Linked DNA regions of Homo sapiens. The protein of the gene in region 3 interacts with the protein of the main gene of each other region in a biochemical or structural test. Each region holds a gene or a part of one and is shown on either strand. Other genes may lie near its edges.

The links.
Region 1: the proteins of MET (region 3) and FES form a complex in vitro, tested with the Homo sapiens proteins (one large-scale study listed by BioGRID and IntAct).
Region 2: of the proteins of MET (region 3) and PTPRG, one has a biochemical effect on the other in vitro, tested with the Homo sapiens proteins (one large-scale study listed by IntAct).
Region 4: the proteins of MET (region 3) and FGR form a complex in vitro, tested with the Homo sapiens proteins (one large-scale study listed by BioGRID and IntAct).
Region 5: of the proteins of MET (region 3) and PTPRC, one has a biochemical effect on the other in vitro, tested with the Homo sapiens proteins (one large-scale study listed by IntAct).
Region 6: the proteins of MET (region 3) and BLK form a complex in vitro, tested with the Homo sapiens proteins (one large-scale study listed by BioGRID and IntAct).
Region 7: of the proteins of MET (region 3) and PTPRK, one has a biochemical effect on the other in vitro, tested with the Homo sapiens proteins (one large-scale study listed by IntAct).

What each region holds. Positions count from the first base shown.
Region 1 is NC_000015.10:90,890,543-90,894,768, reverse strand, and holds part of FES (tyrosine-protein kinase Fes/Fps), read right to left. Parts: intron 3,788-4,226; coding exon 3,578-3,787; intron 3,216-3,577; coding exon 3,093-3,215; intron 2,712-3,092; coding exon 2,658-2,711; intron 2,063-2,657; coding exon 1,944-2,062; intron 1,670-1,943; coding exon 1,575-1,669; intron 1,479-1,574; coding exon 1,355-1,478; intron 1,116-1,354; coding exon 958-1,115; intron 834-957; coding exon 711-833; intron 1-710. UniProt on the Homo sapiens protein: Tyrosine-protein kinase that acts downstream of cell surface receptors and plays a role in the regulation of the actin cytoskeleton, microtubule assembly, cell attachment and cell spreading.
Region 2 is NC_000003.12:62,292,571-62,295,339, reverse strand, and holds part of PTPRG (receptor-type tyrosine-protein phosphatase gamma isoform 1 precursor), read right to left. Parts: intron 2,727-2,769; exon of another isoform or gene 2,623-2,726; intron 2,180-2,622; coding exon 2,033-2,179; 3' UTR 1-2,032.
Region 3 is NC_000007.14:116,699,696-116,703,921, reverse strand, and holds part of MET (hepatocyte growth factor receptor isoform b preproprotein), read right to left. Parts: coding exon 3,638-4,226; intron 1-3,637. UniProt on the Homo sapiens protein: Receptor tyrosine kinase that transduces signals from the extracellular matrix into the cytoplasm by binding to hepatocyte growth factor/HGF ligand. Regulates many physiological processes including proliferation, scattering, morphogenesis and survival.
Region 4 is NC_000001.11:27,617,876-27,622,101, forward strand, and holds part of FGR (tyrosine-protein kinase Fgr), read right to left. Parts: intron 3,783-4,226; coding exon 3,684-3,782; intron 1-3,683. UniProt on the Homo sapiens protein: Non-receptor tyrosine-protein kinase that transmits signals from cell surface receptors devoid of kinase activity and contributes to the regulation of immune responses, including neutrophil, monocyte, macrophage and mast cell functions, cytoskeleton remodeling in response to extracellular stimuli, phagocytosis, cell adhesion and migration.
Region 5 is NC_000001.11:198,711,655-198,715,880, forward strand, and holds part of PTPRC (receptor-type tyrosine-protein phosphatase C isoform 1 precursor), read left to right. Parts: intron 1-1,298; coding exon 1,299-1,418; intron 1,419-4,226. UniProt on the Homo sapiens protein: Protein tyrosine-protein phosphatase required for T-cell activation through the antigen receptor. Acts as a positive regulator of T-cell coactivation upon binding to DPP4.
Region 6 is NC_000008.11:11,500,161-11,504,386, reverse strand, and holds part of BLK (tyrosine-protein kinase Blk), read right to left. Parts: intron 1-4,226. UniProt on the Homo sapiens protein: Non-receptor tyrosine kinase involved in B-lymphocyte development, differentiation and signaling. B-cell receptor (BCR) signaling requires a tight regulation of several protein tyrosine kinases and phosphatases, and associated coreceptors.
Region 7 is NC_000006.12:128,510,166-128,514,391, reverse strand, and holds part of PTPRK (receptor-type tyrosine-protein phosphatase kappa isoform b precursor), read left to right. Parts: intron 1-4,226. UniProt on the Homo sapiens protein: Regulation of processes involving cell contact and adhesion such as growth control, tumor invasion, and metastasis. Negative regulator of EGFR signaling pathway. Forms complexes with beta-catenin and gamma-catenin/plakoglobin.

The DNA.
Region 1 (4,226 bases), on a different chromosome or scaffold from region 3:
TCAAGGTCTCTCTCTCTCTCTGTCACCCAGGTTGGGGTGCAGTGGCATGATCTCAGCTCACTGCAACCTCCACCTCCCGGGCTCCAGTGATCCTCCCACCTCAGCCTCCCGAGTAGCAGGGACTACAGGCGCATGTCACCACACCCAGCTAATTTTTGTATTTTTTGTTTTTTGGTTTTTTTTGAGATGGAGTTTCACTCTTGTCGCCCAGGCTGGAGTGCAGTGGCACAATCTCGGCTCACTGCAGCCTCCGCCTCCTGGGTTCAAGCAATTCTCCCACCTCAGCCTCCCAAGTAGCTGGGATTACAGGCACGTGCCACCATGCCTGGCTAATTTTTGTATTTTTAGTAGAGATGGGGTTTCACCATGTTGGTCTGGCTGGTCTCAAACTCCTGACCACAGGTGATCCACCTGCCTCGGCCTCCCAAAGTGCTGGGATTACAGGTGTGAGCCACCGTGCCCAGTCTATTTTTGTATTTTTTGTACAGATGGAGTTTCACTGTGTTGTCCAAGCTGATCTTGAACTCCTGGGCTCAAGTGATCCACCCAGCTCAGCCTCCCAAAGTGCTGGGATGACAGGCGTGAGCAACTGGCCAGGTTATTCTTATTCTGCCTGGTGGGAAGGTTGGCATTAAGGGAGTTAGAAGAGTCCGGCTGGAGCATCTGGAAGAGGGTGCAGCCTGAGGCTGCTGTCATCACAGGGTGCTTACCCTTCTCCACAAACTCCCGTGTCTGCTGATTGCTGAGGTTGGGATAGGGGGAGGCCCCCAGGCTGAAGGTCTCCCAGAGCAAGATGCCAAAGCTCCACACGTCGCTTTCGGAGGAGTAGCGGCCTGCAGAGGAGGCGAGGAGGTGAGGCAGCGTGAGTGCACCCTCCCTGGGGCCAGGGCGAGGCAGCCGGCAGGACCCAGGCCTGGCCTCTGGCCATGGAGTCCAGGGTAGACAGGGACTAGGTACCGTAGTTAAGGGCCTCAGGTGCGGTCCACTTCACGGGGACTTGTCTGAGGCCCCCTGAGGCTGCATAGACCCCATCGGCTTCCTCTCGGGACATCCCAAAGTCACTGATCTTCAGGACATTCTTCTCTGTCACCAGGCAGTTCCGAGCAGCCAGGTCCCTGGGTGAGACAGGGCAGGGGCTCATTTGGCCAACAGTCGCCTGCCCAGCCCTGGCTGAACACTCTAGGAAAGCCAAGGACAAAAGCTGCTCCCGGCCCTGGGCACCCCTGTCTACCACAGAGGCCAACTCCCCCTCTGGAGCTGATGCCTGATGGTCCAGCGGGGGGCCCTAGGGGTATAGGTACCTCTTGACTCTGGTCGGGGGTGTTGGCAGGGCCCGTGGCCACCGCCCACTCACCGGTGGATGCAGCACTTGCTCTCCAGGTACTCCATGCCAGCAGCTGCATCCCCCACCATCTGCAGCAGAGTCTTCACCCGCAGGCGGGCCCCCTCCGTGCGGAGGAAGGTCAGGAAGTCGCCCCCTGCAGGTGGGGAGGACCCCTGCTGAGCCTCCTGAGGTAAGGCTGCCACCTGACCAGGCTGCGCGCCCTACCTGGAGCTCAGCGCCCCGCGCTCACCCTGCACAAGCTCCATGACGATGTAGATGGGCTGCTTCTGGGTGCAGACACCAATGAGACGCACGATGTTGGGGTGGCTGTACTGCTTCAGGATCCTGGAGGGCACTGCTGCTCAGGATCTACGTGGCCAGGCCCGCCTCCCCAGGGCCCCCCAGGGATGATGGGAGAAGAGCTTGGCCTCCAAGGCCAGCAGACCCGGACGTGTGACCTGGGGCAGCCTCTACCCTTCGGCACTATAAGGGGGTACTACCCGCAATGGGGGGCCTCGAGGACTAAACACCACCACGGTGGTCAAGCACTTCACACTGTGCCATGCAGTGTAACCTCTGTGTATGCGGGACCCGTGGTGATCATTAGTTTATCACCCACCTCGCTTCCTGTAGAAACTTGGCCTTGAGGTCAGGTGGGAGCGTCTCTCGACAAGACTTCACCGCCACCAGGGTGTTGTCGGCTCGCAGGCGTCCGCTGAACACTTCGCCAAAGTTCCCCTGAAACGGTCTTGGGCTCCTACCACGGCCTTCCCAGTCCCGCAGTTCTCTTCTCCGCTTCCTACCCATTCTGCTTCCTACCCCTGGGTGAGGGGCCCCCGTGTTCGGACCCCTCACCCAGGCTCTCTGGGAGTTTGACCCTCGCTGGGGAACCTAGAGAGCACATGGGGCAGGCAGGGAAAGTTGCCTCCGATGTGCCACCCTTCCTGAGAGAAGTGACATGGAAATCCAAAAATCACTCTCCCTTGGGTTTGAAAAGCATTCTGATTTTTAGGACAGTGACTTCTTCCCTAAACAGGTATCTTATGGCTTACAGTAACAGGGTGTCTCCCTGCGTGCACACAAGAGCTCGATGGGGGCGGCCTGGGTGGGGGTGATGAGGTCAGGGTGCTGGCAGAGCTGTCTGCTGGGAGTTTTCAGGGTAGGTACTGTCCCGTTTCCTGGAGGATGGTGTGTGGTGGGGGCTGGGCAGGGAGTCGGGGTACAAGTGGGGAATCAGATGGGGCAGGGAGGTCTCTGGGTGGTAGGGCAGGGGGCCCAGGCGCGACTCAGGAGAAGTCGCCAGCGACAAGGAGGCCAGCAGAGGCGCACTCACCCGTCCAATCTGCTCACCCAACACCAGGTCCTCATGGTTCAGCACCCACTTGTCCTGGGGAAGAGAGGAGACAGGGGATCAGAAGTCTGAAGAAAAGGGGTGCTGGGCCCTTAGAAGGGCTGTGTCCTCCATTTTTTGGCGCCTCCATATGTGACCAGGGGTGGGACCACGTGGGGAGCACACTGAGATGACTACGGGGTCCAGGCAGGTGCCCTGACCAGGTAAGCACCAACCTGGTGTGTACAGCCCATGGCATAGGAGTGGCCCTGACATTCCAAACCTAGAGCAAGGCTGGCCCTGAGGGTCACTCACTCTGCATCTTGTATGTAGACGGAGGGCCTGGAAAGCCCTTTCTGCTCAGACGCTGGGTGGGCCTGACCCACACTCCCCAAGCCCTGCCACAGGTGGCATGGGCCAGGCTGGGTGCAGGCTCACCTTGGGCACAGCCCTGTGCAGGACAACACCACTCTTCTTGGTGAGGGGCTGCTGGGTGCTCAGTAGGTGGTCGATGAGCAAAGGAATGCTAGGAAAGCCTTCCCCTTCCAGTCGGTACAGGTTCTGCAGGGCAGGGGACCCGGGGTCAGCAGCCTCCATTCTGAGGGGGCGTGAGCCCTGGGAGGGGGAAAGGGAGAGCAGCAGGGGAGAAAGGGCCTGCCCAGGACCAGGGGCAGAGAGACCTCCAGAAAAGATGCCATCTGATGGCACATGACATCCTGCTGCCCCACCAGGGGAGGACTCACACTTAAGCCTCTATTTTGTTGCAGGGACAGGGTGGTCTCTGTGGCCCCTTCCAGCCAGCCCTGCTAGGGAGGCATCCAAGACCTGGCAGCTACCCCCTACCCTGAAAGGCCATTTCCCTTGGGGAAGGGAAGGGAGGGGAAGAGTGAGGCCTGGAAGGCTCGGGTCCCAGCCCCACTCACATCCAAGGACTGGATGATGAAGTGCCGGGGCAGACCATCCCACAGCACCGACAGCACGTACTCCTGCTTGCCCTGGCTCTCCCGCACCAGGAAGTCCCCAGAGTGCACCAGCAGCTCAGCCACCTCTGCCCTCGGGATGGCCCCGTGGTACCACAGCTGCTCATGCAGGGGCTTCTGCACCTCCGGAATGAGCTGCAGCGGTGGAGGGAGCTGGGCAAGGGAGGATCGAGGAGGAGTCACTTAACCACCTTGTTGAAGAGGCCGTGGGGGCAGCCGGGGGTCTCTCTCTCCCCCCTATATGCCCTCAGCCCTTACAACCATGGAGTGGCATGCAGAGCCATCCACAGGCCCCTGGAGTGGGCACTGGACTGGCCCAGGCTCACGCTGGGCAGAGCTGGGAAGGGAAGCCCAGGCAGGAAGACCCCAAACCAAGCTGGTGCCTCCTCCTCCAGGCCACAGGCCCCCAACCCGCTCCTGAAGCAGGGAGAGCCATGGAATAGTCGAGGTTGCTGGTCCCTTTAGCACACTGGGGCGATGGAAAGGGAGGGGTCACAGGGGCAGGGTCTGGGGACATCTGCAGCCTGGAATCCCAGGGAAGAGAGGAACTTCCCAATACAAGCAGCCTGGGCAGAGCCTCCTCTCTAGGACA
Region 2 (2,769 bases), on a different chromosome or scaffold from region 3:
AACAACCCACTTAATTGACTAAAAAAAGAGTCTAGCTCATTGCTTTCCTGATTCTCCTCAGCATCTGGCAGTTGTAGTGTTCCTGTGTTCAAGCTTTACTTGAACTTTACAGAGCTTCCTGTGTCACCTCTGGTTGGAGCGGAGGGGCTGTAAAGGTGTCTCTCATCTAGCACATGCAACTTAGCATGCTCTCTTGAACATCTTATCTCAGGACTAGCTTACGCAGCTCTTGAAAAGCAGAGTATTCCATGTTGTTAAATCTATGTATTGAGAAGATGAGATAAACCCTGGTAAATTATGTAGTTTATGAAAACTCCATTGACCTGGCCTTTGCATTCAAATTCTTTAACTTGGCCCATAGCTTCTTTCTCCTTAGCACTTCTGGTCCTCCAGCACCATTCTGACAAACTTTATGAAAGCCAAATCAAGATAAATAGAACCTCAGTGCTGATCATCATTAATGTTTAATGCATACCCAGATGGCATGACAGCAGCCAGCGTGGCCTTTTTGTTGAAGTTAATTGACATAAAAAGTAAATAAAACCCTATTCTTCCTAACAGGCCCAGTTCTGGTGATGATTTCACTTTTGACAGAAGCTGTCCCTCAAAAGCAAACATGCAATAGAAGAAACAGATCTCAGTAAGTAGCTTATTTTCCTTACAAACACTACTGAAATTTCTTATTAATGCTCCTAATTTTCCCATTATGCACTGCAGCGTGAGTATGGCTCCAGAGGCTGCACCTAATAACTTCCTTGAGCTCTAATGATTATTGGTATCTTTTACTAATGTGTATCTGTTCTAAACTACACAAAAGCATACAAAGCCATCTCCCTCTTTTAAAAACTTGAAAATGTGGGTATCACCTTTAATTAAATATTTTAAATTTCTCTCTCCAAATCAGATTTATCTATGTGTGGGAGTTTAGATAGTCCCAAGACTTTTGCTAAGACAGTATTTCCAATTTAATCTTAAGTAGAAAAATGTATGTAATTAAGAGATTTATTATAAAACATTTGGCAAAGAAGGAAAGAAAACAGTAACTATGTAGGTAGTTTTTATTAGATTGCTATAGGAGTAATAGGGAATTTTTAGAGGACTAGTTTCAAAATTACACACCTGCAGAAGTTTTCATTCTTCTACCTACTGTGAGGTATGGTATTACAAACTAAGAAGCATTAATGGAGAATAACTAAAGGGTCTCATAACTGAGTTGTATATAATATTGCTATCTTGCTATTGTTAAAGATAGCCCTGATTTTAGGATGTAGCTATTTTAGAGAGTCAAAATGGAAATAACACATTGTCCACATAGCTACTGTGAAAGCTGTAATACAGAGTTATCCTTTATTTTGACACATTTTTAAAAAACTGTGAATATAACTTTGTAACTAATAAGGGATGTTCACATGAAGCAGTTCTTAAGCCTTCTAACTTCTTAAGGGATCTCTTAACCAGCATAAATGGAACTGTTTCAAGGCCATGACATTAACAGACCTTTTTAGGTCCCAGTAGCCTGCTAGTCTGTAAAAGAAAACAATGCTATCCACTCCATTAAAATACAGAAGGCATACAGTATTGAACAGTGCCTAAAATAAAAAGGAGAGGAGGACTGAAGAAAAGTACAGCATTGCCTGCTAGTAGAATGCAACCACTTCAGCAATAATAATAATAAAAGCAATATTCACTGTCATAACAAAGACCTTCACTGTATTGAACTAAAAAAAAGTAGCATGTATGTCGTCATGGAATGTCACATCAGGGTTTGCTGTTGTATAAGATTATAGGCAGTAACACTGATCATATAGTGCAAACTAGGTAAAATTGCGTTTCACTGTGTGAAATGAACAGAGGTGCAAATGCTCAGTAGGATACCATTAAGACATAAAATGGCAAAAAATAAATATCAAAACTTTTATCAGTGTAAAAAAGTAACTGGGTTATTGTATAACCTAGAGTCTGGCAAAAAAGGCCTCAAAAAAGTTCTCAGTCTTCAGAAGTTTACAAATTAAGTGCCCTTTCAGGATTCCAGTCACACTAGGGACTCCATGCTCTCAGCAGGGTCTGATTCATCTGCAATAAGAACAGCACCATTTTTGTCTACTGTCATGGGACCATTTCCATTTTCTTTAGTGCTGACCAAGCTAAGCATTGCTTTATAGATGAACTGGTATTGTTCCTGAAAAACAAGAGGAAGACAGTTTGAGCCAAAGAACAGTTTAGTGATTTCACATAAGGTGGAAATACCAATTAAAATGGTAATTGTGAAAAACACACTAGAGAAACAGCAATAGCATAAATGTTATCTAAAAAAACTAAAAAAAAAATCATTTGAATTTATTATAGTCAAGACCTATACCTTCTTCATGTCCTTTTGATCTCTGTTAGCTTGGAACCAATTCTCAGTGCTGATTGTTAATGAACAATCATTATTGGTTAATGAAGATAACCAATATCTGGTTAATATCTGGTTAATGAAGATAACCAGAGAATACTATCCTCTAAAGCAGGGCTTCTCAACCTGAGCACTACTGACATTTTGGGCCACATAATTCTATGGTGTTGAGGGCTGTCTTGTGCTGTGTAGTTTGCTTAGCAGCATCTCTGGCTTGTATCCTCTAGATGCCATCCATCTGCAGTTGTGACAAGCAAAAAAGTCTCCAGACATGGCCAAATGTCCCCTGGGGGGCAAAATCACCCCCAATTGAGAACTACTGCTCTAAACTGTGAGTCTGAGTTTCAACTGATGTAGTACAGGTTTTACACATA
Region 3 (4,226 bases):
TGTGCTAATTGTATTTTCTGAGAGGCGAGAGCTATTTCAAGAATGCTTTTCTAATTTCAACTTTGATTAAAATTTTTTCTAAAATGTACGATTTCACTTGTTTTAATAAATATTCTATAACTTAGGGAACAGGATCTTTGCTGATTTGGGGATTTAAAAAATTCTCTTATTCTGTATTGATTCTCATTTGTAGGAGATTGGGCCAATGTGTACTGATTCTCCTTTTTTTCCTGAAATTGTCACATTAATCAATCCCTTATATGTAAAAGACTGTTAGAGATTCCACAGTCTTAAAATTAAATTCCACTTAATTTTAAACAAGTTAATGAAATTTTTGCTACTGCTTATCCTCAAATAGAGATGAGGGTTTTTTCTCCCTACATATGGGCCTTTACAAAGGTTCCATCCATATTATGGGACAATTTTCTCAATTATTTTATTTTGAATAATAATATGCTATTTAGAGAATATGCATTAGCCTAAAACAACTTCAATCAATACTAATTTAGGATGCTTATAGAGGTTGATTGATGAATGGGTAAAGGAGGAGGTAAAGATATTAAACAGATTTAGTAATTATTTGTGGGTGTATAATCTCATAGTACTCAATATTGGAAGTCACTGTAAACAAATTCTTTAGAATCACTTTCAAAAGCAACATAAAAAATGGACACATTGTGAGGATCAAGAATATATTCTTATAGAACAACTGACATAGTCAACAACACTGGTATTCTATAAGTGGGCATTTGTGGCTTGGGATAAGTTTCCAGAAACAGCATCATATGTGGAGACAAAGAGTTCTGAAGCACAAATAGCTTATGGGTGAAGATGACGAGTACTGGGAATTATCAAATGACTCAAAAGAGGGCTTTTGTGATGTCATCAATATGAGAAGATGCATGTGAAGAGTTTGCATAGACATATTTCATGAAATGTGAGACTGGGAAAAGCAACAAAATATGTGATCCTAAACAAGCAAGTCAGGCCTGGTACACCTGCTGGACCCCTAAAATGTAAAAGGCCCGTCCCTGGCACTCCCATTATCTGATCTTGTGATAGAAACACTTTTTGCACATGGTGGAGAGCTCTTGGAGTGCCAGGAAATCCCTCTTTCAGCAATGTGTCAACACTGAGGACTGGGCAGAAGCATAAGTAGAAAGTTACTGCTGCAGCTCAGCTTTCTTAACCTTGTCCACAAGAGTCCCTTTATAAATGTATTAGAGATGTTAATAACAAAACTACAATATGTGTGTCTTTTCACCAAACTTGATGCCAAAGTAAAAACTCAGTTCCAAGAAATTATTAAAAGGGTCACTTGATTTCTGGCCAAGTAAATCTGCCAAGACAAAATGGAGTCATCTTATTGCTTGAGAGTCCTGCTAAACAGCTTTGATCTTGTAATCATTTTGTTTTTTTTGTGTGTGATGAATGGCTCTAGGTGCCTTCATTTTGGCATTAAGCTAGGAAATGATTATATGCTCATTATTGGAACAATCTGAGGTCTGGATGGGGTATATGGAGAGAGAGAATATGTGTAGTCTCAGTCTCAGAAGAATTTTGATCTTTGTAACCAGAGAAGATAAACAGGCAAATAAATAGAGGAGGTTTGAAGGTATTTGTCTATGGAATTTGGCCAGTGTAAAAGTTGGCTTCCTTTGTAAGAAGACTATGTTGGCAAGTTCCATCTTGTTTCCCGCAAGAATTTTTGTGATGGGAGTGATAATGGTTTCAGGTGTGGCTAGTGCATTTTGGGAATTTTTCCTGGGCGATAAAACTGACCTGAATTTCATTGGCTAATCCTGTCTGTTTGTCTCCCTTGGAACACTAAAAAAGTCAAAAGGGTAGGATAAAATTCAGATGTGTTTTGAGAATTTCTAGAATTGATAAGTATTTTTACATCTAAGGATTGAAATGTACAAAATTTAAAAAATGAGATATCAATATACCTTTATGAATTCTCTTTTTAATTTTTTTCTTGCCCTACCCTTCTTTTTAATTTTTAACAAAGAAAGATTTAAATAGCAAATCCATGTGCTCTAGGAGCCCTGGAGGAATTCCTAATAGACTCTTTTAAAACTTGTGTCTCAGAATCAACTTACTGGATGCAGAAAAATATCTTCTCTGTAATGCTATTAATATTATATTTTTATTTCCTAATCCCAGGTTTCTGAAAATCATTTTGTTTCCTTTCATTCTTTTGTAGTTTCTAGTAAAGAAAAGGGGGAGCTTCATAAGGAATTCTATTGCTTCTTTGCAACATATATTAAATGTATGTAGGGGGAAATAAGTCTTAGTTGGAATGTATGTGCATTTATGTTATGTATATTCATAGACTTTGGAAGAGAGAGGAAGGAAGTTTTGTTTTTAGTTCACCAAAAGATGAACTGACTTTCTTGGAAGTATTTTCCTAGCATCATAAAAAGTTAACTATAGTTTCCATCTAGAGAAGTGTCCCAGACATTTCAGCAAAAGTCAACCAAATGTCTCTGAATTCATATGCCTTTACCCCTCAGCAAATTATATACTTTATGCTACTGAGGACATGTTTAATGTTCTACCTGATTGCAATTATAACCTTTATATCTTAGATTGAAACCTGTTAAAGTAAGTGAAACATACCATGCCAAAGTCAAACTGTCTTTAGAAAAGCTATACTATTTGTTCATTCAATGATGGTCATAGTCAGGTCCGTATTCCAAATCTGGCCCAGATCAAGAAACTCAAAGCCACAATAAACACTCAGACCAGGTGATCAACTGACTAGCAGGATAAATCTCCAGGTATAGCTGGTAGCTGTTACTATATTTAAATCACAGCACCAAGAATATCTCTAACAGCTCCTAAGAAAATACCATTTCATATAAGTATAAATAATCATCAACCAAAATATTTATGCTTATAAATAACAAATACCAACCAGGTAAAGTGCCAAGCTAGAACTTGGTAGACACAAGTCTTTTCCAGAAGGAAGTCCATGATTAAAGTCAAGCTCTAAAGGAAGGACTTGGGAACAAACATTTCCTCTCTACTCTTACAGGTTATTTAGAGAAGTATACGAGCTCATTTAAAAATGTTTTATTTACCAGCATTTCAGAAGAGGTTTTTTAAAGTTAAGTTCCTTTAAGTAATGTCAAGAATATAGATTAATCAGTTGTGTATCAGTGAGAGAATATAATCTCATAAGGAACAATTCTTTAAGGCATACAAATTAGCTTGAACATCTTGTAAATGTTGCAGAGATTATATAGAAATGTCAATAATTATGTTTTATGGGAATTGCTGCTGTGATAAAAATCTGTGTAAATCTGATAAAATCTGTGTAAATCTGATAAAATCTGTGTAAATATAAAAAAGCTTATATGGGAAATAACTTTAATATAATCTGAAATGTCACGAACATGCAAATCTGAATTGTAAAAACATTTTTCTTTTAGTTACCATTTACATTTTAAAGATATAATTTTAGGTGTAAATGAAGATTCAATTCCTCAATTTTCTTGGAAAAAATCTGCAACTATTTTGGATAAACACCATTTACAAAGCACAAAAGAAGCCCTGGATATTCTTTTTGAGACTGATACTTATTTCTAATTTATACCTCACAGTTTATAAGTGGGGAACTGATGTGACTTACCCTATTAAAGCAGTGCTCATGATTGGGTCCGTAAAAATGCTGGAGACATCTCACATTGTTTTTGTTGACGATCTTGTTGAAGAAGTCGTTGACATATTTGATAGGGAATGCACACATGGCAGATCGATCCATTGGTTCGGCAGAATCTGGCTTGCTTTGTGCGAACACCCCGAAAAGAATGTCATCATTCAGGCTGGCTCCTATTTGTCTAGCAAGCTGGGCCCCAGGCTTGCTGACATACGCAGCCTGAAGTATATTAAACACTTCCTTCTTTGTGGATCTCTTTTTTCTCTTTTCTGTGAGAATACACTCCAGAGGCATTTCCATGTAGGAATGCAATCCAGAGTTTATGGAACAGAACCTGATTATTCTTGTGTGAAAAGTCTGAGCATCTAGAGTTTCCCTTTGGACCGTCAAGAAGTAAATAAAATTGTTGCTTTCAAAGGCATGGACATACTTAATGGGGTAAGAATCTCTGAACTCAGGTAAAACATCAATGTAGGACTGGTCCGTCAAAAACATAAAACCATCTTTCGTTTCCTTTAGCCTTCTCACTGATATCGAATGCAATGGATGATCTGGGAAATAA
Region 4 (4,226 bases), on a different chromosome or scaffold from region 3:
CTAAGTCTAAACTTCAACCTCAGGCCTCAATCACTCCTCTCCCTTGGGGATTCTTTCTGGGATTGAACCGTAGCCCTAAACCAACTGTGCAGGTACAATGGGGGAGCTGAAGTGACCACAGGTGCCATAGAAGACTCAGATGATCATGAAACTGGCCTGTGGCCATCTTGGGTTGAATTAAAGGAGCCTCGTGTTTTCAAACCAAGGGTGGTGGAAGTCTCAGTGGACCCTGGGAAGGTCAGTCCGCCCCTGGGTACTAGGCACAGTTCAGGAAACAGGGGAAGGCATTGGCAAGTGGTGTGTCCAGGAGGGCAGGCAGGAGGGGGACGGAGGAAGTGTTGAGGGACTGTATAGACAGGACACATTGTCAAGTTTTTTCAAAGCCCTCCCCGCTCCCACACGCATGACATTAGCTACCTCCTTAATAATCACTATAATAATAACACACATATTTCGTGTTAGGGTCTGCCTTAATACACGTATGTATTCACTTAATTCTCCTAACAATGTTGTGAGATAGCTACTATTGTTAAACCCCATTAGACAGTCAGGGCAGCAGTTGCTAGAACAGGAACCCAGGCTGTCTGCTTTAGGGCCTGTGCTCCTAACCACACTACCCGTAACCACAACACTGCACTGAGCACCTCTCAGTGCTTGGTGACACTGGCTCCAAGATGTGGACACAAGCATGAAGCTCCCCACAAACCTCCTGTCCTCTGCATAATTGTCCGTCCTCTTCTTCACGCCTCCTACCACCTCCCCAGACTTGGGCCTCACCGCACTTGACCTCTGAACCTCGCCTACCCGCTCCTGCTCAGTGATACCCACTTCCTGCCAGCAGCCTCCACCTGCATGCAGCCTCTCTATTCCAACAACCTCCAAACATGCCCACATTTCTCCCTTCCCCAAAGGAAACTATTCTAAGTTCCATCTTGCCGTCAACATTCTGCTGTATCTTCTCGCCTTCCCTTCACTTGAAAAAGTGCTTCACACTTGGGTCTCCACTTCCTCACCTCCCACTCCCTCCCAGGCTCTGCTGTCTGGCCTCCGCCTCCCACCCTCACACAGAGAAATCTCTCACCAAGGTCACCCCCACTGCCAAATCCAGCGGTAGCCTCTGACACGCCCTCTCTTGTTTCCTGAAGCTTCTCCGCTCTCTCGGTTGTTCTGACTTGGCCTGGTCTGGATTTCCTCTCTTCTCCAATGGCTCCTTCTCCTTCGAGGGCAGCTTTCCCCAAAGTGGGGTCCTAGGGCCAACCTTTTGCACTCTCCACTCTCTTCCTTAACCGTCTATATAGCTTTTTTAAAAATTTTTAATTAATTAATTTTTTTTGAGACGGAGTCTTGCTCTGTCACCCAGGCTGGAGTGCAGTGGCTCGATCTCAGCTCACTGCAACCTCCACCTCCCAGGTTCAAGTGATTCTCTTGCCTCAGCCTTCTGAGTAGCTGGAACTACAGGTGCCTGCCACTACACCCGGCTAATTTTTGTATTTTTAGTAGAGATAAGGTTTCACCACATTGGCCAGGCTGGTCTTGAACTCCTGACCTCATGTGATCCGCCCGCCTCGGCCTCCCAAAGTGCTGGGATTACATGCATGTGTCACCGCCCCCAGCCCCCTCCTATATAGCCTTAATGATCATCTTTACTCTCATGAGTCCCAAATTTCTGCCCTAGCCCGTTGTGCCCTCTGCAAGGGCCACAGCAAACAAACTGAGGAGTTTTAGTGGCAATTAAGAAAAGGTGTCCCTTCCTCTGGGCTGATTCAGGGGCATGGATTAGCATGGGCTGGTTGCCTGCCATACAAAGCACAACCTAATCGAATTGCTGGCAGCTTCGTCCACCTGGATGTTCCTCTCCACAAACCACAATCCAACAAGTACCCCCTAGAACTCATGAACTTATACCTGCTCCTGTGTTTCCCGCCTTAGCAAATGGTGCCATCATCCACCCAGCTCCTTAAGGAGACTTTGAGCCACCCTTGATTCCTCCCACTCCCCATAACCCAAATCAGTCACAGAGTCCTGGATTCTCACTCTGCAAAGTCTCTTCAATCCCTTCTTTTCTCATATATGTATGACATTTGTGAGGATAGATTTTTAAAAGCTTTTTGAGCCTCAGTTTCCTCATCTGTAAAATGGGAACAATAATAATATCAAGGGGCCGGACACGGTGGCTCATGCCTGTAATCTCAGCACTTTGGGAGTCTGAGGCAGGAAGATCACTTGAGGTCAGGAGTTTGAGACCAGCCTGGCCAACATCGTGAAACCCCGTCTCTACTAAAATTATAAAAATTAGCCAGGTGTGGTGGCGTGCACCTGTAGTCCCAGGTACTTGGAAGGCTGAGGCAGGAGAATTGCTTGAACTCAGGAGGTGGAGGTTGCAGTGAGCCAAGATTACGCCACTGCCCTCCAACCTGGGCAACAGAGCAAGACTCTGTCTAAAATAATAATATCAAGGCCAGGCATGGTGACTCATGCCTGAAATCCCAGCACTTTGGGAAGCCAAGGTGAGAGGACTGCTTGAGCTCAGAAGTTTGAGACCAGCCTGAGCAACATAGCAAGATTCTGCTTCTATAAAAAAATATACAAAAATTAGCCAGGCATGGTGGCACACACCGGTAGTATCAGCTACTCAGGAGGCTGAGGTGGGAGGATCACTTGAGCTCAGGAGTTTGAGGCTGTAGTAAGCTAAAATCATGTCACTGTACCCCAGCCTGGGCATCAGAGCACGCCCCTGTCTCTTAAAAAACTAATAATATAACGGTGTTATTGTGAGAATTAAGTGAACCAAGGAGATAAATACTTGCTGTAGTATACTTGCTCAAGTATATAAAGGTATTCAATGAATGATAAATTCCTGCCTCTTGGGCCAGGTCTCGGTGGCTCATGGCTGTAATCCCTGAACTTTGGGAGGCCAAGATGGGCGGATGGCTTGAGCTCAGGAGTTCAAGACCAGCCTGGGCAATATGGCGAAACACCATCTCTACTTAAAAAAAAAAATATTAGCCAGGCATGGTGAAAGAATCATCTGAGCCAGGGAGGTCAAAGCTGCGGTGAGCCGAGATTGTGCCACTACACTACACTCTAGCCTAGGCAACAGAGTAGGACCCTGTCTCAAAAAAAAAAAAAAAAAAAAAAAAAAAAGAAAGAAAGAAAGAAAAGAAAAGAAAAACAAAAAGAAAAAGAAAAAGAAAAATTCTTGCCTCCTTAATAGAATTAATTCCTAGTAATGCTCCCTTGCACTTTTTCAGCACTTTACAATTTTTTAAAGCTCATACACTGTTGTTTTTACTGGGAGGCAATATGTGTAATGCTTAGCAAATGCAGCCCAACTATCTGGGTTCATACATCAGCTCCACCACTCACTAGCCATGTGAACTTGCACAGGATATTTACTTTCTCTGTGCCTCAACTTCCTCATTTGTGAAATAGGATAGTAGTAATTTCTAACCCCGTTAATACACAGACAGTACTTTGAATAGTGCCCAGAACATAGTACATGCTCTATTATCTACTATTATTATTATCAGTACAATCTTCTTTTGTTCTCACAATGACCTTACAAAATTATTAGATAAGGAGACAGGCTCGGACTGGAGCAATGACTTGTCCAAGAGGTGGCCTTGGAGTCTGGACTCCAGGGTCCTGTCCATAGGGCTGGTCTTGCCCCAATCCCTACTTACTCTTCAGCTTGGATTGAGTCAACAGGGGCCACGTAGTTGCTGGGAATGCAGCCAGTTTTTCCGGAGCTGAGAGACCGAGCCTCCCACCAGTCACCTTCACTGTAGGCACAGAACAGGGCATGGTCAGCAGCACCTCCAGCCCCCAAGGCACCCTGAGGCCAGGTGGAGCCACACAGGTCTGCAGAGATGAATCCTGCCAAACCCTCATCTTGGACACCCCCCACCACTGGGGCTTTTGTCCGCTCTGCCCCAGCCACTGCAGCTTCCCTGGGAGGGCTTGTCCCTGCAGAAGGAATAAGCTCGGGGGCACTTAGGGCTCTTAGCTTCTTCCTTGGGCTCCCCAGCTGGGTTGGGCTGGGGATTGGGAATTCAGAGGACAGCTGACTAGGTCACTTCCCCACAGAAAATGGCTACTGATTTCCTTCTGGATAAAATCTAGACTTCTCAATGTGGCTTAAAAAGCCTGACAGAGACCAGGTGTGGTGGCTCATGCCTGTAATTCCAGCAGTTTGGGAGGCCCAGGCAGGCAGATCTCCTGAGGTC
Region 5 (4,226 bases), on a different chromosome or scaffold from region 3:
GGATGAGGCCACTAAGGAAATAAAAAAGCAATAAATAGTTTGTAAAAAATCAAAATTAATTTTTTCAACAACAGAAGTTTTTCCAGAATATACAGAGAGCTCTTTCAGCTGCAAAATAAGGACTAAAACAGCTCAATTGAAAATGGACAAACATTTTTAATATATACTTCACAAAAGAGGATACACAGGTGGTTAATAAGCACATTAAATGATGCTCAGCATCATTAGTTAACTGAGAAATACAAATTAAAACAACACTGAGATGATAATACTATACATCCATTAAAATGGCTAAACTTAAGAATACGGATACTACTAACTATTGGTCAGGATGTGCAGCCATGACCCAGGAATTTCACTCCAGGTATTTACCAAAGAGGAAACATGACAAAGCAGATGCATTCATAGTAGCCAAAACCTGGAAACAGCCCAAATGTGTATTCACTGTTGAATCCTAGGTAAAATGTGGTGTATCTTTACAATAACTACTGATAATTTTTTAAAATTCTAACTATGACACATGCAACTAAGTGAATGAATCTTCAGAACATTACATTGAGTGCAATATGTTAGGAGTGAAAAAGTACTTACTGTTTGTTTCATTTTATTTACATGCAATGGGTAAAAAGACAAACTTAATCTGTAGTTAACAGAAAGTTGATCAGAAGGTACGTGAGTCTGGTCAAAGGAGCTGAGTTGACTGGGAAGTACCACAGAAGGACATTTTGGGATCACAGAAATTTTCTTTATCTTGATTGTGGTGTTGGTTATGTGGATGTATACATTTGTTAAAAATGCATTAAACTGTATCTCAAATGGGTACATTTTAATGTAAATTTTACTTCAGACATTTTATTTAAACATTTATCAGTTTTTCTCAGTTTCAAATGACTAGTTACTGGAAGCAATGACAAGTGCTACTCAATGACTGCTAAATTTATTGGTGCTATGAATGCCAGATTTTTAGCACAGCAAAATCTACAAATTCCAGGATTTTTAGGTAGTATCTGGGCAAGAATATATATGAATAATGTATATGAAAGGAAGAGGGGGTTCTTAGATATCTTCAAGTCAGTGGAATGCTTAGGTTTCACAGTGCCAATCTGGTGTGACATTTACTTTGTTAAAGGAATTTACTCTAAAACAAATTAAATGAGCCCAGATGCATTTCTTTAAATTTTATTTTGAATTCATCATTTGTCAAAATATGGTTATCAATAATGCATGCTTATAATATGAAGAATGCTTTATCCATGTCTTATTTTTCATATTACATAACATTCTTATTCTTTTAACAGGTCCAGGAGAGCCTCAGATTATTTTTTGTAGAAGTGAAGCTGCACATCAAGGAGTAATTACCTGGAATCCCCCTCAAAGATCATTTCATAATTTTACCCTCTGTTATATAAAAGAGACAGGTAATTTGTGTAGAATTTAATTTCATCAGAAAAGAGAAATCAAGAATTTGAAAGTACTAGAAATTTTTATTGAGCCAGTGAGTCACAAAGCTCTCTGCTTAGAGACTGCATAGGCATAGTATACTCCCTGATCTTAGAATTGCTTCCACTCATTCAAAGCTTTCCAGCCCCAGAAATGACTAAAATCCAGAACATTCTAAATATTTGCTTGTCCTTCTTGGTCTTAGTTTAAATCTTTGTGCTCCAAAGCCTAGAGACAGAAAACCTCTGGATGACAACACTCATTTCTGTCTTGCAAGTATTATGTAAGTGATTTGACTCACTTTGAACTCATCATTCAGCCTCCTAAACAAACCAACAAACAAGCAAACCCCTTGTAAAACTTGTTTCAGCTAATAATACAGACAAAATGTTGGGTGAATAAAAATGAACATGGGCCCATGTAGCCGCTGGGGCCAGTTTGGTGTAATCTTGGGAGCATAGTTCTAAGTTTAGAATTAGACTTCTGCAGAAGTAATGCAATTAAAAAAAAAAAGAAGAAGAAAGAAATGTGCTATGACTAGTTCACTCATGAAATGTTCAAATGAGATGCTATTTAAGAGAACAAATATCTTCTGGACAATTTAAAGTATCTAAATTGTTTGTAGAAAGTAACATCAGTGGAGTATCTCAGAGCAGCCTCAATGCCTGGGATAGCCCTTTCTCTATTCTTTTATCCATAGGTTAAAATAGGAATGAAGTGAACCTCATAGAATTCTGTCACTCTGTGCTGTGGGGAAGGAACCAGACATACACTTCAAAACTTGAAAAGTGAAAGGCTATTTTTCTTCATTATGTTATTTTATATTTTAATGGCCTTTTCTTGCTAGTGTCTTTAGGTCTTAATAATCAGACTACTAAAGCAAAGTTAAATATGCATGTAGTTTTCAAATTAACATTCAAAGGCCAAGGAAAATAAATATATACTATATATTTGAGGTTATGATAAATTTAAAAGTTAAGTCTATGTGGAAGGAAAAATGGAAATTCCAGGAAGATAAAACAGCAGAGGTACTGTCTGCCTCATTGGACACCTCTTTTACAAACACTTTGTGTAGCTTCTATGGGAACACATTGTTCATTTTTTTTTTCTCTTCTCTGAATCTTCTATTCACTATCCCTTTCTGCATTCCTCAATGTCTACACTCTCTCTACTAGAGAGTATTGTCGATGTCAGAGTATATGGTAGACATTTTATGCATTTATGGCTCTTTTATATTTTTACAGTTTTTTTAAACTGTATTTCCACTGTATTTGCATAATTAGGGTAAAAAGGATGTAATGAGTTAGTAGCAACTCATTACAGCAACTAGCATGGGTCCTTCTTATTGGGCAACTAAATAGTGTTACCCAAATTTAACAGCTGTCCACATAGAACACTTAAACGGGATTGAATGGCTGAGAAGGGGAGGCTAGCTATCAGGCTGTGTGTTTTCTTTTCTCCAAAGCTGCCGATTGGTGACTGAATGCAGCTTTGGACCATGCCCTGACACTGCATAAAGGGCTCTTTGGAGCCAGCTCTACTCTAAACAGCGTGCTCCGCTTTTGTTTTCTCCTTCATCTCAAACATATACCTGTCTCCTCTCCCATGTTACCTAAGGCAAAGAGAGTTGATAGGATTATAGTATCGTTAAGGCAACTTAACTTTTCTCACCATTTTAAATAAAATTACTATTAAAAATCCACAGGAAGAAAGTCTATGAAATTTGCAGTTTACTTTTTAATCAGATATTAAATTTCACTTCATTACTTCACAATTTAATTTTTTCAGTGTCTCTAAAAGAGAGGGATTAAAAGAGGAGAAAAAATGCAATTGACATTAATTTAGTTTTATTGGTTTAGCAGGTTTTTTTAATTATGTATTATTTAAAGATTTTATCAACTATTTTAATAACTCAGTGGAGATGTGCATACATATCTTCATAGTTCATATGATGAAACTGAGGTTAACAGAAAATGTGATAGATGTTCAAGTTCAGTAGCTTGATCTGTTTCCTTTCTGCTCTTGGTTTTGTTTGTTTGTTTGTTTGAGAGGGAGTCTCCCTCTGTCGCCCAGGCTGGAGTGCAGTCATGCGATCTCGGCTCACTGCAAGCTCCGCCTCCCAGGTTCACGCCATTCTCCCGCCTCAGCCTCCCTAGTAGCTGGGACTACAGGCGCCCGCCACCACGCCCGGCTAATTTTTTTGTATTTTTAGTAGAGACGGGGTTTCACTGTGTTAGCCAGGATAGTCTGGATCTCCTGATCTCGTGTGATCCGATCCGCCCGCCTCGGCCTCCCAAAGTGTGTTTGTTTATTTTTCCTCACATTTTTAGCTTAAGATATTTTGGAGAACTGCAGTTTTATCTCGTTAACTTAATGATGGCAAGTGACAGTGAAGCTTCTTGGTAATTGGGGAATTGGGGAAGAGATCTTTTGTGCTTTATTGGATTTAAAGGATTATTTTTCAAAAGTTACTGAAAGCAATAGGCACCTTTCAAGACCACCATGATGTTGCTGGAAATTATTTTGTGTAATGCCTTTTATTTTTTTAAGAAAAAAAAAACAGAACAAATTGCTTAATCTCTCTGTGGCTCAGTTTTGTCATCTGTAAAATCAGATGATAGTGAGTACCAACTAATAGTTGCAGTGATGGTTAAATTAATTATTTCATGTATACCCCTTGAAACAGTGCTTGGCACATACAGTGAGTTATTATTTTTAAAAATCGTTATTGATATTATTATTACTGTTGCTGCTATCCAGAAACATGTTGCCACTCTAATCATCCT
Region 6 (4,226 bases), on a different chromosome or scaffold from region 3:
CTTTTCTTTTCTTTTCTTTCTTCCTTCCTTCCTTCCTTCCTTCCTCCCTTCCTTTCTTTATTTTGAGATGGAATCTCGCTCTGTTGCTCAAGCTGGAGTGCAATGGTGCGATCTCAGCTCACTGCAACCTTTGCCTCCTTGGGTTCAAGCAATTCTCCTACCTCAGCCTCCTGAGTAGCTGGGATTACAGTCGCACACCACCACACCCAGCTAATTTTTGCATTTTGAGTAGAGACAGTTTCGCCATGTTGGCCAGACCAGTCTCAAACTCCTGACCTCAAGTGATCCGCCTGCCTCGGCCTCCCAAAGTACTGAGATTACAGGTGTGTGCCACTGTGCCTGGATGTGAATGGGATCTTTCTAAAGCCAGGACCTAAGCTCCAAGAAAGGCTGGGGAGACTTTAGCCCCAGGGTAGATCCCTTCATCTCCCGGCCAGGAGCCTCTCTGGGGGTAGTTTTGATTCCCACTTGCTAGTTCCCACAGGACACTTGTCTGGGTGGCAACGTGGAGTGCCGGAACCTGGAAAGATGCACTTGACCAGCAGGGGAGGGTGGAAGATGGCCCCTTTCACTGCGAGCCCAGGGCAGCCAGCAGCCTCAGCAGAGGTGAGGCCCAGGCAAGAAAGAGGACAGAGTGACCTCTTCCATCCTCCACACCTGCACATAGGAACCTCCAGTCTGGTGACCAAGAGAGCAGGTGTCTCCTTGCAAGTCTCAGCCCTCAGACCTTGCCAAGAAAGAGCACCCTTGCTTACTTCAGACAGCACACAGATCCCTGGTCCACGGCAGGAAATCACCCAGCCACATGCTCACACTGACCTGGTGGCAAAGGCCTCTCTGAAAAGGGTCACCCTGTATAAGGCTTGGGCACAGGATGGAGCAGAAAAAAATAGAGCATCTCACGTCCCACCTGACACAGGGGCAGGTGACAAAGCTGCACCTCTCCCTTTGGGAGTTACTAGTCGTCTGGGTGTGCCAGCACCCCCAGATCTTTCTGATCAGAGGAAACCAGATAAAAGCCATAAACGCACTTTGCAGAAGAGTGCCCACCTACACACAAGCTCCCATCCAAGATCAGGAGCTGACAGGCTACCAGGAGACTCATCAGAAGCCCAGGGGCTAGAAGGTCAGAACCAGCTTAATCTATTAAGTGCAGAACATCAAATGTCCTTTTAGATGCTACGTGTGGTTGTGTGCTTCACACATACACAAACATTCTCTGCACTTGAACAACCTCAAGCATCAGGGCCTCCTTCAGTTTTGCACCCCAGGTGTGTCTTTACCTCCCTCTGGTCCTGGCTCAGCATCCCAGGTATCAATCTGTGCAAAGAGGCCAGCAGAGAGTAGAGATGAGAAGGAGCCCAAGGGGACATCCTTGTATCCCATGGTTGTGGAAAACAGTAGCCGTTTTGCGAGTGGGGACTTGCGAACCCCACAGTGGCTGGCAGCAGCTGGTGTAGGGACATGACAGCCATGGGGACAGGTTCTCCATCCAGGCCCACAGGCCCACCCCCCTTCCCCTGCCACCGAGCACAAAGCAGGGTCACCCACCTGGGCCTCCGCTGTCAGGCTCGGGACTCAGGAGAGCCCAGGAGGCAAGTTATTCTCCACTTGTCCCCACTTGGCTGCAGGCAGGACCCTGATCTGCAGTGTGGCCTCAAGACACTCGGCCTCCCCGTCAGTGATGCACTGGGGGCCAGCTTGTGCCGGTATGCTAGAGCCGGTTGTTAAATTCTCAGGAATTTTGTGAGCTGAATTATTCAAATCATTATGCAAGATTAAGGTATAAAAACTATACGGGCCGGGCGTGGTGGCTCATGTCTGTAATCCCAGCAGTTTGGGAGGCCGAACTGGGCAGATCACTTGAGGTCAGGAGTTCAAGACCAGCCTGGCTAACTCTACTTAAAATACAAAAATTAGCCAGGCATGGTGGCGGGTGCCTGTAATCCCAGCTAATTGGGAGGATGAGGCAGGAGAATCCCTTAAACCCAGGAGGTGGAAGTTGCAGTGACCAGAGATCGTGCCACTGCACTGCAGCCTGGGCAACAGAGTAAGACTCCTTCTCAAAGAAAAATAAAAAAGAAAGAAAAAGAAAAAAAAACTATATAAAATTAAAATGATAAAAAATTAAAGTTGAATTATACAAGATACAACTAAATGGATTCTATTAAAACAAAGGTTATAAATACTTAAACCTCATCACTTCCTGATTATTTTTACTGCATCTTAATAATAGCTATGCTTTGAGGTTCTTTAACTGACTGTGTCTATAAGGCGGAAGTACTCTATCGTGCTGTGCTGCTGCGCATCTCGAACCCATGTTCACGCAAGTCATGTTAGCAACTTGAAATTGGCCCTGGTGGGAGTATTTATACAACAGGAACAGGCAAATGCTACAGGTCGGCAGTGATTTGTTTCATGGATTTTCTATGCTTAAAAGAGCATCTTGTCTGTAGCTAGAACACTGTGAGTAGCACAAAACATTGAGGAAACTTTTCTGAATATTGAAAAACTACTACCCAGTTCAACAAAGAAGCCGCTCATGGCACTAAGGCTGCAGCCTGCCCCAACTCTTTGTTGTTTCACTTTGATCTGCTCCTTAACATGAATGAACATTTCAGTGTTTGTGCCAACACCACACTTGCTCATCTGCTGCAACCAATGCTTGGCTACGGATATGACAGTGCAAAGTCACGAGAGCTTTCTATGAGACTCAATCACCTCTGCGGTATTTAGGACAGAGACTATTGCATATTTTGTTATTATTTGTAAATTAAGTGCTACGCATCCTTTATATCAGTACATGTTACTATAAACTTATGTATGTATACAATACATTTGTTTCCTGGAAAGCTGGTTGTTAAACGTTTACCAGGACGCCATGCTCTTCATCTACAAGATGCCTATCTTGACCTCACACTTCCCCCAGTGTGCTGGCAGGTGCCAGAGAGCCCATCAGATAGACAGACAGACAGACACCACAAAGTAGAAATGATTCCTTTCCATGCTAATGTGTTAAAAAAAAAAAAAAGAGAGAGAGTTTAGCCTTTCCCATAAAGCACCAAATAAAATCAAGAAAATGGGCTATGACTTTTGACCCTATTTTCGTGTGTAATACTTTTTAAAGGATCCTTTTATTTATTCAAATAAAATAGTAAATAAAATTAAAAGTATCATTTAATTTTTAATTTTTTTCACTCTGTCGTCCAAGCTGGAGTGCAGCGGCAGTCTCAGCTCACTGCTGAGATCTCCTGGGTTCAAGCAATTCTCCTGCCTCAGCCTTCTGAGTAGCTGGGATTACAGGTGCCTGCCACCATGCCCAGCTAATTTTTGTATTTTTGGTAGAGATGGGGTTTCACCATGTTGGCCAGGCTGGTCTCGAACCCCTGACCTCAAGCAATCCTCCCACCTTGGCCTCCCAAAGTGCTGGGATTACAGGTGTGAGCCACCACGCCTGGCCAAAATAAAAAGTATTATTTAACTTTATGTAAAAATCCAATTGCACCACAGAAATGGCAGGAATAAAAGAATCTTAAAATGAAATAATTTATATAAACTTTAACATAAAAGGTAGAGCCAGGCATGGTCACTCATGCCTGTAATCCCAGCACTTTGGGAGGCTGAGGCAGGCAGATTGCTTGAGCTCAGGAGGTTGAGACCAGCCTAGACAACATGGTAAAAACCCATCTCTACAAAAACCAAAATTAGCCAGGCGTGGTGGTGCACACCTGTGGTCCCAACTACTTGGGAGGCTGAGGTGGGAGGATTGCCTGAGCTGGGGAAGTGGAGGCTGCAGTGAGCCATGATTACACCACTGCACTCCAGCCTGGGAGGCAGAGCGAGACCCTATCTCAAACAAACAAAAACAAAATAAAACAAAACAAAAAAACAGGCCAGGTGCAGTGGTTTATGCTTGTAATCCCAACACTTTGGGAGGCCAAGGCAGGCAGATCACTTGAGGTCCAGAGTTTGAGACCAGCCTGGCCAACATGATGAAACCCTGTCTCTATCAAAAAAATACAAAAATTAGCAGGGCGTGGTGGTGCACACCTGTAGTCCTAGCTACTCGGGAGGCTGAGGTGGGAGAGTTGCTTGAACCCGGGAGGCGGAGGATGTAGTGAGCTGAGATCAAACCATTGCACTCCAGCCTGGGCAACAGAGTGAGACCTTGTCTCAAACAACAACAACAAAAACAAACACCCCCCAAATCAATCTAAGGTGGAATA
Region 7 (4,226 bases), on a different chromosome or scaffold from region 3:
ACACACACACACACACACACATCTTAACAATGCTAGGACTTAGTTGTAGAAACATTTAGGTTAGAAAGAAGGTAAGGGCATCTAGAGATGGTATCAAAACTCCATACTTAACATTTTTGGAAAGAGTAGTGAAAATAGATCACTACTTTATTTCATAGATGTAGAAACAAGTGGAAAATAAGCTGTATATAATCTATACTGTATACTATACTATACTGTTATACTTTTAAGGATAAAATAATAAATCTTTCTCCAGATTGGTATCTATTAATATAAACCCTTCCCAGTGCAGCCTGTTCCTTAACCAGCTGCTCATAGGCCGATTCTCCAAGCGCTGTTCAAGGCAGCAGCTGACCAGCCACAGAAATTCCCTTAATCCGTGTTGGATAGTGGAGGTGACCTAGCAGCTGCTTAAGTGACAGACTGGCAACAGTTCCTTGATGTGATTTTTCTTAGGTCATTCAGTAAATTCAAGAGTAGAGAGGAAGGCTTTCTAGGGTCCTCACTACCCACCCAGGGATTGATGACTGATTGCTTCATGGTCATTGGATTCCTCACTGCAAGGTGTCCTGGGATTTTGTGGTTCATGGACCAATATAATTAGCATCATCTGGAAATTTGTGATGATCTGTGATCATCAGAGTCACCCCAGATCTACTGAATCAGAATCTGCATTTTGATGAAATCCCCAGGTGATTTGATGGAACATTTAATTCTGGGAAACACTGCTCTAGGACAAAGAAAGCTCAGTTTAAAAAGATTGTCACATGAACTTTACCATAGAATTTCAAGAATATTGCAAAAGGATTAATGATAACCTGAAATACATTTCCTTGGATTTATATTTCTTTTTCCTTTCTTTTTCTTTTTCTTTATTTCTTTCTTTCTTTCTTTCTTTTTTTTTTTTTGGAGATGGAGTCTTGCCCTGTCACCCAAGCTGGAGTGCAGTGGCACGATCTCGGCTCACTGAAACTTCTGCCTCCTGGGTTCAAGAGATTCTCCTGCTTCAGGCTTCCAAGTAGCTGGGATTACAGGTGCGCCACCATGCCCAGCTAATTTTTGTATTTTTAGTCAAGATGGGGTTTTACCATGTTGCCCAGGCTGGTCACGAACTCCTGAGCTGAAGTGATATTCCTGTTTTAGCCTTCTAAAATGCTGGGATTACAGGTGTGAGCCACCATGCCCGGCCCCTGGAGTATATTTCTGATCAATATTTACTTGATTATTATTTAATATTCCAGACACATCAAAACAACAGTACTATACAAGCTTTTTAAAAGAATGCTCAGATGACTTTGAAAAAAAATATTTTCATAAGAGACTAAAAGTAAGACTAGTTTTGGTTATGAATATTTTGTATAAGAATATTTAAAGATAAACATACTCTTCAAGGAACCAAACATGCTATATGCAAATCATTTTTAGCATAATGTTATGTTGATACAGGAAATACTATTCCCTCTGACATTACTAGTAGCAGTCTCTTGCTTTATAATTCTCTTTTTCATCTAAGTGTAATTTAAGATCTTTGTAGTAAGGAGCTCATTTATAGGACAGTCAAATTTAATGAATGGGAGTTGGTAGGTAGAATGCATTAAATATAACTGGTGTTCTTTTTATTATCTTTTGTGCTCATATTTAAGAACAGAGATTCTTGTCAGTTTTCTCAAGAGAAAAATTATGATGTAATAGACAGTGTACACTATTCATGTCAAAACACAATTTTACTTGCATTTTATAGCTTGCTTTAGCATTCTTTTAGAAAATGAATTTTCCCAGAAGACCTAATTGCCTTCTTATTAATGAGCCTGTAAGTGTTTTTTGTTATCCATTTACTATTCTAAATGTGTCTACTTGTGCTAGCTGTTTCAACAGTGTTGTCTCTGATTAAATCACAACTGCTATATTTGTTTTTGCCATTCACTAGTGATTCAGAAAATATTGGCATAATGACGTGGTTATGGCAGAGACTAATAAAAAACAAGAAGTAAAAATTAATGTTCACCCATTACAGTTGGCTGTATCATGAGATCAGAAGCTGGAGTTTGGGATAATAGCAACGTTCTCTATATTTTTGATACTGTAAATAAAAGTCTGCATAACCTATATTGTCTTAAATATAAAATATATAATTTATTGAATTAATGAACTGTAAATCAGTGTATTTCCATATGTACTTAATTTAGACACTAATGTTTAAAGAAAGATTTAATAGGAGACTGATCACTGTTAGAGGAGAAGTAGTGGTGGAGAGACTCTGAGAGGGCACTTTCGTATATCTTCAAGAACTTCACAGTTACTTTTTCTAGTTTGACTCCAAATTCTGGAACTTGTCTTTTTTACTAGTACTGCTTTTATTCTTATGAGCAATAATTAGGTTCATTTATTTTCTTATATGTTGGAGAAGAGAGCTTTTCCTAAAGCAATTGCAAAAATAACAATATGAGCTGTAATTTACTGAGAGCCCATGACCTGCTAGGGCCTGTGATCAGTGTTTTACATAATTTTAAATCCTCACAATATCCTTTAAGATGAGGATCATCTCCATTTTACAAACTAAGGCCTCGAGGGGTTAAGTAATAACTTGTCCCAAGTGGCTATATGAGTCACTGGTAGAGTCAAGATTCGTTAATGAATGTACACAAATGTTTAAAGATTAGACATTTCTTTGGTTGCATCTTGGCAGAAAATGTAACCCAGACTGGTTGCAACAAAAGGTGAATTTATTTGTCTCTCCTAACTACAGTTCAGGTGGAGCTTGATTTAGAAGTTGACGTAATTCCACTGAGACATGATGTTTCTCTGCCTGCTTAGTTTAGTTCTAGGGTATTCCAGGAGCTTCTTAGGCTCCATATAGAGGCACGATGGCTGTGGCAGCTCCCACCGAACAAGATCCCAGGTTCAAGTCCCTTAAGGAAATGTGAATTATCTGCTGGTTGCACCTGATAAGGCTCTAAGGTTTACAGTGCTTGAATCCACTGATCTTGTTTCCAACCATTGAATCTAAGGCTCTGACTGAGGGGAAGTTAGTGTGCTGATTGGCTTGGCCCAGGGTTTGTAATCTTTCTAATGGGGAAGAAAGAAGATGGGAGATGATGGGGAAGAGACAGTAGGATCAGATTGTTCTCTGTTGTGGACCACTAGGTGATCTCTAAGTGGGAAAGCGTGGAAGAGAAAGAGAGGAAAGAGGCAATTTGTGTCTGGCAGGCTTGTATACATTTACAGATCACCTGTTTTTAATCTGAGAGTGTTTATTTATTGGCTTTCCCTTTAAGGACTACTTTAAAGCATGAATTTATATTATTTCCATTATTTTATTTTCCTTGTCTCAGTATTGAATTAGTCTAACATTAAAAATTTGTAGAATTTGGTGTTAAAAAAGATCTTAGAAATTAATGACCCCTTCATTTGACGTAAGTTGCCCAAAGTCATACAGGTAGGAAGAACTTGAGCTCAAATTAAAGATTTTAATGTATAGGTTAGTGTTCTTACTATATATGTATCATATATTAATGTATACTATATATATATCATTTTCCTTAACAGTAATCTATATAATTATTATTTAAGATTAAAAAATTTTTGGCTTGTATTCCAAATTTCTGAAACAATATTTCCAAATATAAACCTGACTTAGTGATTGGATTTGATTAGAATAGTAGTCTGCATATAAGGTGATAATATGTCTGTGAATGCAAGAGACTATCTTAGATAACTGCTTGGTTTTCAGATATCATGACAGAATTTATACATGTATGCATGTATAGGTGTTTGCATGTATGCATTTATTTATTTTTAATAGAAAGCAAAGGGTAAAGTAAGCTGTGGTAAATGATATTGACACAGACAAAACCTACTAACTCTACTATTTTTGAAAACCTCAAGAGATGATGGTGATTTTATTTTTAATTTTGATCCTCTAACCTCTGCTGCCTAAATTTATTATGTATATCTGAGCAACATGGGATATTAGGAAGAGTTGCTATAAGAAATATCTTGGGGTACTGAATAATGAATAAAATGTAGAGAAGTAGCAGCTGTTTGCCTAGCTACCTCCTCTCCTAATGAGAGATTTACCCAGGCTGTCTTAATCACATGTTAGTGCTAGTGGATTTGACTGAGGACCATGGCTGTGCCAGTTGAGGCCAGGGGATAGTCTCCAGGCACTTTAATGGTCCGTAATGGACCTTCAATGGCCAGGGCAGCTGGCCTGGCACATAGGGGTG